Linked DNA regions of Homo sapiens: region 2 is linked to region 1. Evidence: fine-mapped expression QTL. A gene starts in region 1. The other region holds a variant in brackets. All regions are shown on one strand. Distances are from middle to middle.

Region 1 (4,361 bases):
AACTTGTATACAGAAATAAAGTACCAACATATTAGATCATTGTCCTTAGGAACAAGGAGGAAGGAAGGAAGGTTCCCATTTTGTTGAGGGAGAATAATTTAGGCATAATTGGTAACTCCAGTCGATAAAAGACATAGTCTGTCAATAGCAGTTGGTCTTACTTTCCCGTAAATAAATTACTTGATTTTACGTAAATAAGATTTCCTTATGGTGGTCCCTAAACTCCCCTGGGACAGCCTCCAAGTAACTCCAACGTAAATGGTTATATGCTGGTGGTTAATACGCTCAAGTCTCTCCGGACAGACCCCCAGAATTAAATAATGTCTTTCTTTACATTGTGAGACAATGGGAATTTGATGCATTACAAATCACAAACAAATGGGAGGCACGGGAGTTCAAGTTGCCAAAATAACCACATTTTCTTGATAGTTTTCTCAAAATTTATTGCCAATGCTTCATCCAAGCAACGACTGGTAAATCTCAGTAAGCGGGAACCTGGCCCAGAAACAGAATTCTCCATTGAAGTCAATTTAAGGGTGCAGGGGCCCATGGTTTTAACCAAAGGTGGCAGGAAAAGGCTCCCAAGGGTGACTCTGGCTGCACCAGTCCATTCTGGAATCACTTTCATCGCCCCCGCTCACCGGGCTAAATGCTGAGAGTCTCTGAAAGTCAACTGTCGAGGTCAGGGGCTGAGAAATTCCAGGCTACCTTGCGTACTAGCCGGCGCTGGCATCGTTAGCCAAGCTGAGCAGGGAGCGCAGCGGACCTCAGGTTTCCCGCCAGACCACAGAGCTCAGGTGAGGCCTCGAATCCAGAGGCTCACCGGGGCCAGGCAGGCTTTTCGCAGCTGACAGGCACCCCTGGAAACGGAGTGCACTCTATACAAAGCAGACCGACCGAGAGGGCCACCGAGGAAACAGGTGCAAGAGCCCTGTCCTCCCAGAAGCAGAGCTCTTGTGGGATTCATCCCCTGCCCCCTTCCCTCCTTTGCACCTCTGCAGCCCCAAGCCTCCACCGCTCGCAAGTCCGCCCAGTAAGCGGCTGCCCCAGGGACCATCTGGCCGTCCCTTCCTGGTTACTCATCCTCCCGGCCACTTCGTGGTTGCCCGTGCCTGGGCAGGGCCTGGAAGCGCTCCAGGCGGGACCTTCGTCGGATCCCGTCACCTGTCGCGTCCACAGCGCTTGGGCGCTGGGAGCCGGGCCACCCCGCGGTGAAGGGGCTCAGCCCACCCGCCCGCGCCCCCACATGGGCAAAGTGCGCGACTCCGGTGTCCTTAAAGCAGGGACCACTAAAGCTGTGTGATTAAGTTTGAGCGAACGTTTGGGGACACGATCCGCGAATGTCATCAGACTCTCAGAGGGACCAGGTGTTCTGTAAGGAGTCGTGTCCACTTGGAGACACTGACCTTGAACAATAAGAGAAACCGAATTCCCTGTCTCCGGTGGTCCGAAGACCTCTGCAGAAATCGGGCCCCGTAGTCCCACCCTCCGGGTCAGGGTCTCCCTCCTCAGCCCGCTCCAGCCCTGCCTGCCCCTCATTCGCCGTCCCTGCGCCCCCCAGACCAGCCCGGGTCAGTTTCGCGGGGGCTGGAAGTTGGTAGCGGGTCCCCTCACCTGCTGAGGTCGCTCACGAAACTGCCGCTCTTCTCATCCAGGAAGCGCTTCCAGCCGTCGGCCGTCTTCACCCAGTTCTGCCCGGGGGACCGCCAGTCCTGCCCGAGGAATGGCATGGCACCGCGAGCGGACTAGACGGATGGGGAGACGGGGCCGGCCTGGTGGGCTCGGGGACGTGCCACCCGGGGCGGATGCTCGGGGTGCAGGGGCCCGCGACGGGGGCGGCGGGGCGGCGGGAACGGCGCGGGGCACCCTGCGGGGTGGCGGGCGCGGAGAGGATCTCAAGCGTTGCAGGCTCCGGGAGTGCTGCGCGGCAGTAGCTGCCGCAGTATTTATCCCCGCAGCCGGCCGCAGCTCTTTGTTGCCGGAAGAGCCGCCCGCTCTTAGCCCGGCCCCCCGGCCCGGAGGCCACGTGGCTTTGTTTATGGGCTCGGCTTGTTTTCCGAGGCGCCTGCGGCTCACGCTCCCCTCCCGGTTGCACAACCGCGCCGGTGGAAACTTGAAGCGGTGCTGCCGGGCCGGGTACCCCGCCGCCCCTGGCACCTCCGCGCGCCCTCCCCGCCCCCAGGACACCGTTGTCCCAGAGCGAGGCCCGGCGCTTGGAAAGATGCGCCCCGGTCTCCTGCAGCTCCCGGGCTGACGGGGTGCAGGGAGGGGGCCGGAGGGGCGTCTGGGTCCCTGCGGGGTGGGCGTGAGGAGCAGGGCCAGCCCCCCTCCTGCCCCCGAGCTATCAGGATCGACCTCCGCAGCCAGATCAGCCTCCCGGGCCGTCCGCAGAGCTGGGGCCGGCACCGCGCCCGCCGGGCGGGGAGTAGGGGGCGCAGCCTCCTGACCTCGCTCACTGCCCCAACCCCGCCCTAGCGCGCGGGGGTTGGAGCGGGGAGGAGGGACAGCCTCCCAGCCCTCCGGGCCCCTTAGCTGTCACTAACCAGTCCTCCTTCAGACCTGCCCCTGGGGCAGCAAAGGAGGGGAAGGAGAGGAAGCCCTGGGAGGTATCTGGCTCCCGCAGGTTGGGAGTGGAGAAAAAGAACAGCGCCCCTATCCTACCCGAACCCTCTAAGAGACGGGTTAAATGATGTACCCAGGGCCAATGCTACAGTACAATCTGAAACTACCCTGTTTGCTTTTACTTTTTGCTGTTGTTACAACAATCTACCCCTGTCTGCAGTGGGAACTCCATGAGAGCTGGTCTGTCTTGTTCCGGAGGCATTTCAGCCCCTGCACCCTGCCAGGCCCAGTGCAGGCCTTCAACAACTATTTGTGTGAATAAGTGAATGGATACGGGAGGCTGCTGGCATGAGGGTGGCTTCTTGCCCTTCATCACCTCTAGTTATGATGCTTTACAGCCTGGTCTATTTGGCAATTAGTTTGCACAGGACAGCAGCAGCAGAGTAAAAATCCCATACTCAAGCATTAGCTTCAAACTTCATTCTTCCATTCTTCTTTCTCTGCAGCCATCAATATCATCTAGTCCACTGACTCGGTGTAATCTTTAAGGCTCAGGCAAAGAAATTGTGTGTGCCCTATGAGGCTACATGTTGGACTGGGAAGACGTTTTTAATAAAGTTTGTTTTCAAGAAGCCAGAGCTTTCTGATTTAGATTTCCCACCGTAAATAATTTATTAGTGTAGTAATAGTAAAAAAAAAGCTTGTAAAAACATTGAAGAAGTCCCAAACAAATGTTAAACACTGTGATGGTGCTAACAAATGAGGCAGTGTTGGGTCTGGTCTCTGTTGGAGGGAATTGGTATCTGCATAATTAAGGGATGTGATTATTATTATTATTATTTTTGAGACAGGGTCTCATTGTGTCACTCAGGCTAGAGTGAGTGATCATGGCTCACTGTAGCCTCAGCCTCCCCAGCTCAAGCCATCCTCCCACCTCGGCCCCAGTCTCCAGTAGCTGAGACTACAGGCACTCACCACTGCACCAGGCTAATTTTTTATATTTTTTGTAGAGATAGGGTTTTGCTATCTTGCCCAGGCTAGTCTTAAACTCCTGGGCTCAAGTGATCCTCCTTCCTTGGCCTCCCAAAGTGTTGGGATTACAGGCGTGAGCCACCATGCCCGCCTGGGATGTGATTATGAACAATGTGGGTTAGTTATGTATTAGTAAGCTGGCTACATACCTGTAGAGACCACAGAGGGCCAGAAGGTAGAAGTTTTGAATTCTAATTCTGCTGGAGCAGCATACTACCTGTCCTCCCTTGGATGAATGACTTAAACTCTTAGGGCCCCATTTACTTAACTGTCAAGAAAAAATGGAGCCAATAATGCCTACCTTTCAGGATGGTTTAAAAGCTGTGGTAGATTGAATTATTAGTACCCATTCTTCCCTCCTTTCCAGTAGCGTCATGTGCCCACACTTTTTGGTGATGTGTATTTTTCTAATTCTTGACAATGGGCTTGGCCATATGACTGGCTTTAGCCAAGGGGATGCTGATGGATGTGATGTGAGCAGAGGATCTGATGTATGTACTTGCCTGGTTGGTCTTGATGTTTTGTGTGTTCACCTGCTCCATGAAAAGAGCATACCCTGTGTAGCCACTGCTCCTGGAGTGGTTTGAGTGACATCCGTGTGTCCCAGGATGTGACACATGGAGCAGACACTCCCGTTGACCTCACAGATGTGTTAGCAAGAAATAAATGTGTCTTGTTGATGCCACTGAGATTTTTGTGATTTACTGTTACACAGCATTATTGTGTCGATAGCTGACTACTATAAAGGGTTGAGTGGCTCAAAGTTG
Region 2 (4,397 bases), 59 kb after region 1:
CATTTGACCCAGCCATCCCATTACTGGTATATACCCAAAGAATTATAAGTCATGCTGCTATAAAGACACATGCACACGTATGTTTATTGTGGCACTATTCACAATAGCAAAGACTTGGAACCAACCCAAATGTCCAACAATGATAGACTGGATTAAGAAAATGTGGCACATATACACCATGGAATACTATGCAGCCATAAAAAAGGATGAGTTCATGTCCTTTGTAGGGACATGGATGAAGCTGGAAACCATCATTCTCAGCAAACTATCGCAAGGACAAAAAACCAAACACTGCATATTCTCACTCATAGGTGGGAACTGAACAATGAGAACACTTGGACACAGGAAGGGGAACATCACACACCGGGGCCTGTTGTAGGGTACGGGGAGTGGGGAGGGATAGCATTAGGAGATATACCTAATGTTATATGACGAGTTAATGGGTGCAGCACACCAACATGGCACATGTATACATATGTAACAAATCTGCACGTTGTGCACATGTACCCTAGAACTTAAAGTATAATATATATATATAAATATATATAAAAGAAAAAAGTATTTTATATATATATAATATATATATATTATATATTATATATAATATATATAATATATTATATATATTATATATATTATATATTATATATATTATATATATAATATATTATATATTATATATATATATATATAAAAGAAATTGGCTCACATGATTGTAGCGGCTTGGGGAGTCTAAAATCTGGAGTGGGCCGGCAGGATGGAGGCTCAGGGAAGAATTGCAGTCTGAGTCCAACCAAAGGCTGTCGGCTGGCAGGATGCCTTCTTGTGTGGGGAGGCCAGTCTGTTCTATTCAGGCCTTCCACTGATTGGGTGAGGCCTGCCTGCATGATGGAGGGTCATCTGCTTTCCTCAAAGCCCACAGATTTTAATGTAAATCTCATCCACAAAACACCTTCACAGAAACATACAGCATACTGTTTGACCACTTTTCTGGCATTGCGTCCCAGCCAAGTGGATACATAAAGTTAATCATCACAGGGGCCATGGAATCCAGCCCCTTCACTTGATAGGTGGGGAAATGGGGGTCTGGGGGGCTCAGTGATCCACAGGGAGACAGGCAGCAATTCAGTGGGGGGTGGGGGCTGGTGGAGAAAATGTCTCCTGGTTTCCATCCTTCGCTCTGTGCACCCACTCTACCACTCACGAGGGTGGCTCCCCGTGGGCAGAAAGCACCACGTAGACATGGTCTCAGCACATGGTCATTTGGATGTATGGGGTTGGCTTGTTTACAGAGCTGCAGGGTGTATTTTAGAGGAGCACTCTGTTGGCAAGCTTGGTGTGTGTCTTCCAGGATCTTCTAGCTTGGTAACTCAGTTAGAATTCCAGGAAAGTGAGCAGCTAAAACCTGAGGATGTTTTCCTGGCATAATTCTTTCAGTCAAGCCACAAATACTCTCTGCAGTATACATCCCACTCTCTGTCTTGTTTTTTAGGGTTTTTCTTTTCAGTACAGTTTTGAGCACCTGCCTTGTGCCTCAATGAATACTTGTTGGGTGATGAATGATATAAAATTCATCTTGACATTCAGCTTAGGTTTGGAAGACAGTGTATGATTTCTTTACCATGGCCTTGACTCATCTTCTGAATGGTCAGGCTAAGTGCTGCCTCCTTCTCTGTGTAGCCTATTCAGGCACCTGCTCACCTACCACAACCTGCCAGGCCCCTCCTGCTCTGGAAGCATGCTATGTGAGAAATAATCCTAATATCCAAGTCACAGACAGTGGGTGGGCTTGGAAGTGCAGGGCCTGTGATCCCTTTGTGGAGTAGCTGAATTTAGAAGTGACAGCAATTGTGTTCTATAATGAGAATGGTCCTGATCATCATGAGAATAATAGCTGCCTTTTATTGAGAAACTGTCAGGTACCAGCTACTGTGCTGAGCATTTTCTATGCATTTGCTCCCATGTTCAGATCCCTCCTCTGTCTTCGTGTGTGATATGGTTTGGCTGTGTCCCCACCCAAATCTCATCTTGAATTGTAGCTCCCATAATTCACACGTGTTGTGGGAGGGACACAGTGGAAGATAATTGAATCATGGGAGCAGTTTCCCTCCCACTGTTCTCATGATAGTGAATAAATCTCACAAGATCTGATGGTTTTATGAGGAGAAACCCTTTTCACTTGGT[C/T]GTCATTCTGTCTTGCCTGCTGTCATATAAGATGTGCCTTTTGCCTTCTGCCATGATTGTGAGGCATCCCTAACCACATGGAACTCTGAGTCCATTAAACTTCTTTTTCTTTATAAATTACCCAGTTTTGGATATGTCTTTATCAGCAGTGTGAAAATGGACTAATACAATGGGTAATTGTGAAACCTGATTCTCAGAGTCAGGAGAAGTTTTCCCATTGAAACAGAGCAGAATGCCCAGGATACACCTAGAATGGTGTCAGCACAACATATGAGACATATGGAGAATGCAGTTGACCCATGAGCCTGCATATATGGTGTCATACTGGAATACTCCCTGAGAAGCGTTGTGTAAACCACATAGGACTAAAGGCCCCTCATTTGCAGACTCTGCTGGGGTTCTTTGTATAGGAGGACTTTATGGAAAATAATAGAGGGGCTTGACTTTACTGTGTATGCCTTGGTTAAAGTAATGTCCCTCAAAAGCCCCTTTGGTACTCAGAGACATGGTTCACCCCTCAAAGTCATAGAAGGATCAGTGATGGGAGCTTGGAGTGAATGGTAACAATAGATGATAGCATCAAGTCAATTATTCAGAAAAACTGACACTAGTGGCTTAAGTACTCAAGCATTTATAATCTCACTTGAGAACTATGAGGTAGGTATTTTGAGGTTGATTTATCAGCTCTAATGTCTCGTCAAGTATCCAGGGTCATTCTTCATTTCTGCCTCTCTCTACTTAGCTTTTGACTGTTGCCTTCAAACTTACTGCTTCTTGGTCACAAGGTGGCTACCCCAGCTCCAGGCATTGCATCTGAATTCAAAGAAGATACAGTGTATGTATTTGTAGGTGGGGTGGGATGAGGTGAAAGCGCTTCTATGTATGACTTCATGCCTGTTCCTTTTACAGGAAACCAAAAAGTTTCCCAGAAGACTTCCAGATGACTTCTCTTTACCTCTCATTAGTCAGAACAAGATCAAATGGGGATCCCTAGGCATAAGGGAGGCTGGGAAAGTGAGCATCTTGGTGGAGAGGAAGATGATGGTCTTAACCATATCAGATATATTTTAATTCATAGTCTTGGAGCAGGTACTTTCCTGAACAAAACTGGGGTTCTGATGACAAGGAAGAAGGGAATCTATGTGAATACCTTCCATAATAATCACTAGCATCATCTCATTCAATCCTTGCATTGGGAATTATTCCTATCCCCATTTCACATAGAGAAAGCTGAGGGTTAGGATGGTGAAGTGATTTATCTGAGGCCACATAGGCTCTTAGAGTGTCCTTATAAGGTGTCCTTATGTTCTTAGGCACCAGACCTTCTATTTCCTTGACACTCCCCTGGGTGCCTGTGTACTTGGCAAATACTAACAGCTTTCTGGTTGAATGAAGAAAGGACAGCACATCCATTTGAGGCAGAAAGTCATGTATTAGGATTCTATCCTGGGACTATGGGATCAACAGATCCTTGTTTTACTGGCAGAAAAGTTGCTTCCCTGGACATTATGGAAATAACTTTAGATTAAAGATCTCTCTGGGAGGAGGTTTCTGGCTGTAAGTAGTGGAGCCAGTGAACCCTGAGGCCATTCTGACACTGCCAGCCCCTGACTTTCCCAATAGCCCCAACCAGGTGAGGAGACAAACTCCCAGTGTGATCAGCACCTCTGGAGAGTTTGCCATTCAATTTGGAGGAAACCACCATGTAGGAGAGGAGCTGACTTCCTCTAAGTCCTTCCTGAGAGCAGAACTAGAAAAAATGATTGAATTTGTCAGGAAGAAGAGTGTCTCACTGGGGAAAAAGTATAGATTCTAGCAGCAGAAAGATCTGGTTTTGAATCCTGTTGTGCAAATTAAGTGAAATATACATATAAGGTGCTTAAAACAGTGCTAAGAACCTAAGTGCTTCCAGGATGTCTCAAATCAAATTAAGGTTGGCCAACTATAGAATAGAATATCAGTAAGATTGAAACTTCCTTATCCTGGAGGTATTCAAACATTTAACTCCTTATTAGGGGTTAAATCACTCAAAAGCAACAGAACCACCACCAACAAACAAAACCAGCTAACGTTTTTTGAGTACTTACTCTAACTCACTATGATTATTTTTTATTGAATATTTATGATGTGCTTGGCACCTTGCTAAGCACTTTATGTGAATTTTCTCATTTAATCCTTATGACAATTTTAGGAGGAAGATATTATTGTTATCC

Direction of the effects. Positions count from the first base shown, and alleles are read on the strand shown. Sizes are in standard deviations (SD) of each study's normalised expression.
As copies of C replace T in region 2, the expression in tibial artery of the gene that starts at base 1,922 in region 1 goes up (small effect, 0.15 SD a copy in GTEx).

The links. PIP is the estimated chance that this variant, and not a neighbour inherited with it, causes the effect. A credible set is the group of variants that fine-mapping cannot tell apart.
Region 2: its variant is the best candidate, but not a certain one, in a credible set for the expression of FBXO32 in tibial artery (GTEx, PIP 0.53).

Annotation. Positions count from the first base shown.
Region 1 is chr8:123,539,285-123,543,645 of GRCh38, forward strand. FBXO32 (F-box protein 32) reads right to left here and starts at 1,922. Exons shown (of 9, transcript NM_058229.4): 1 at 1,615-1,922. The coding sequence starts at 1,730. RefSeq lists silencers at 1,819-1,908, 1,959-2,068, 2,159-2,448.
Region 2 is chr8:123,598,400-123,602,796 of GRCh38, forward strand. No RefSeq gene overlaps it. Among named protein-coding and RNA genes, the nearest start is that of KLHL38, 53 kb to the right of the region's middle. The variant C/T (reference allele first, on the strand shown) is at 2,185.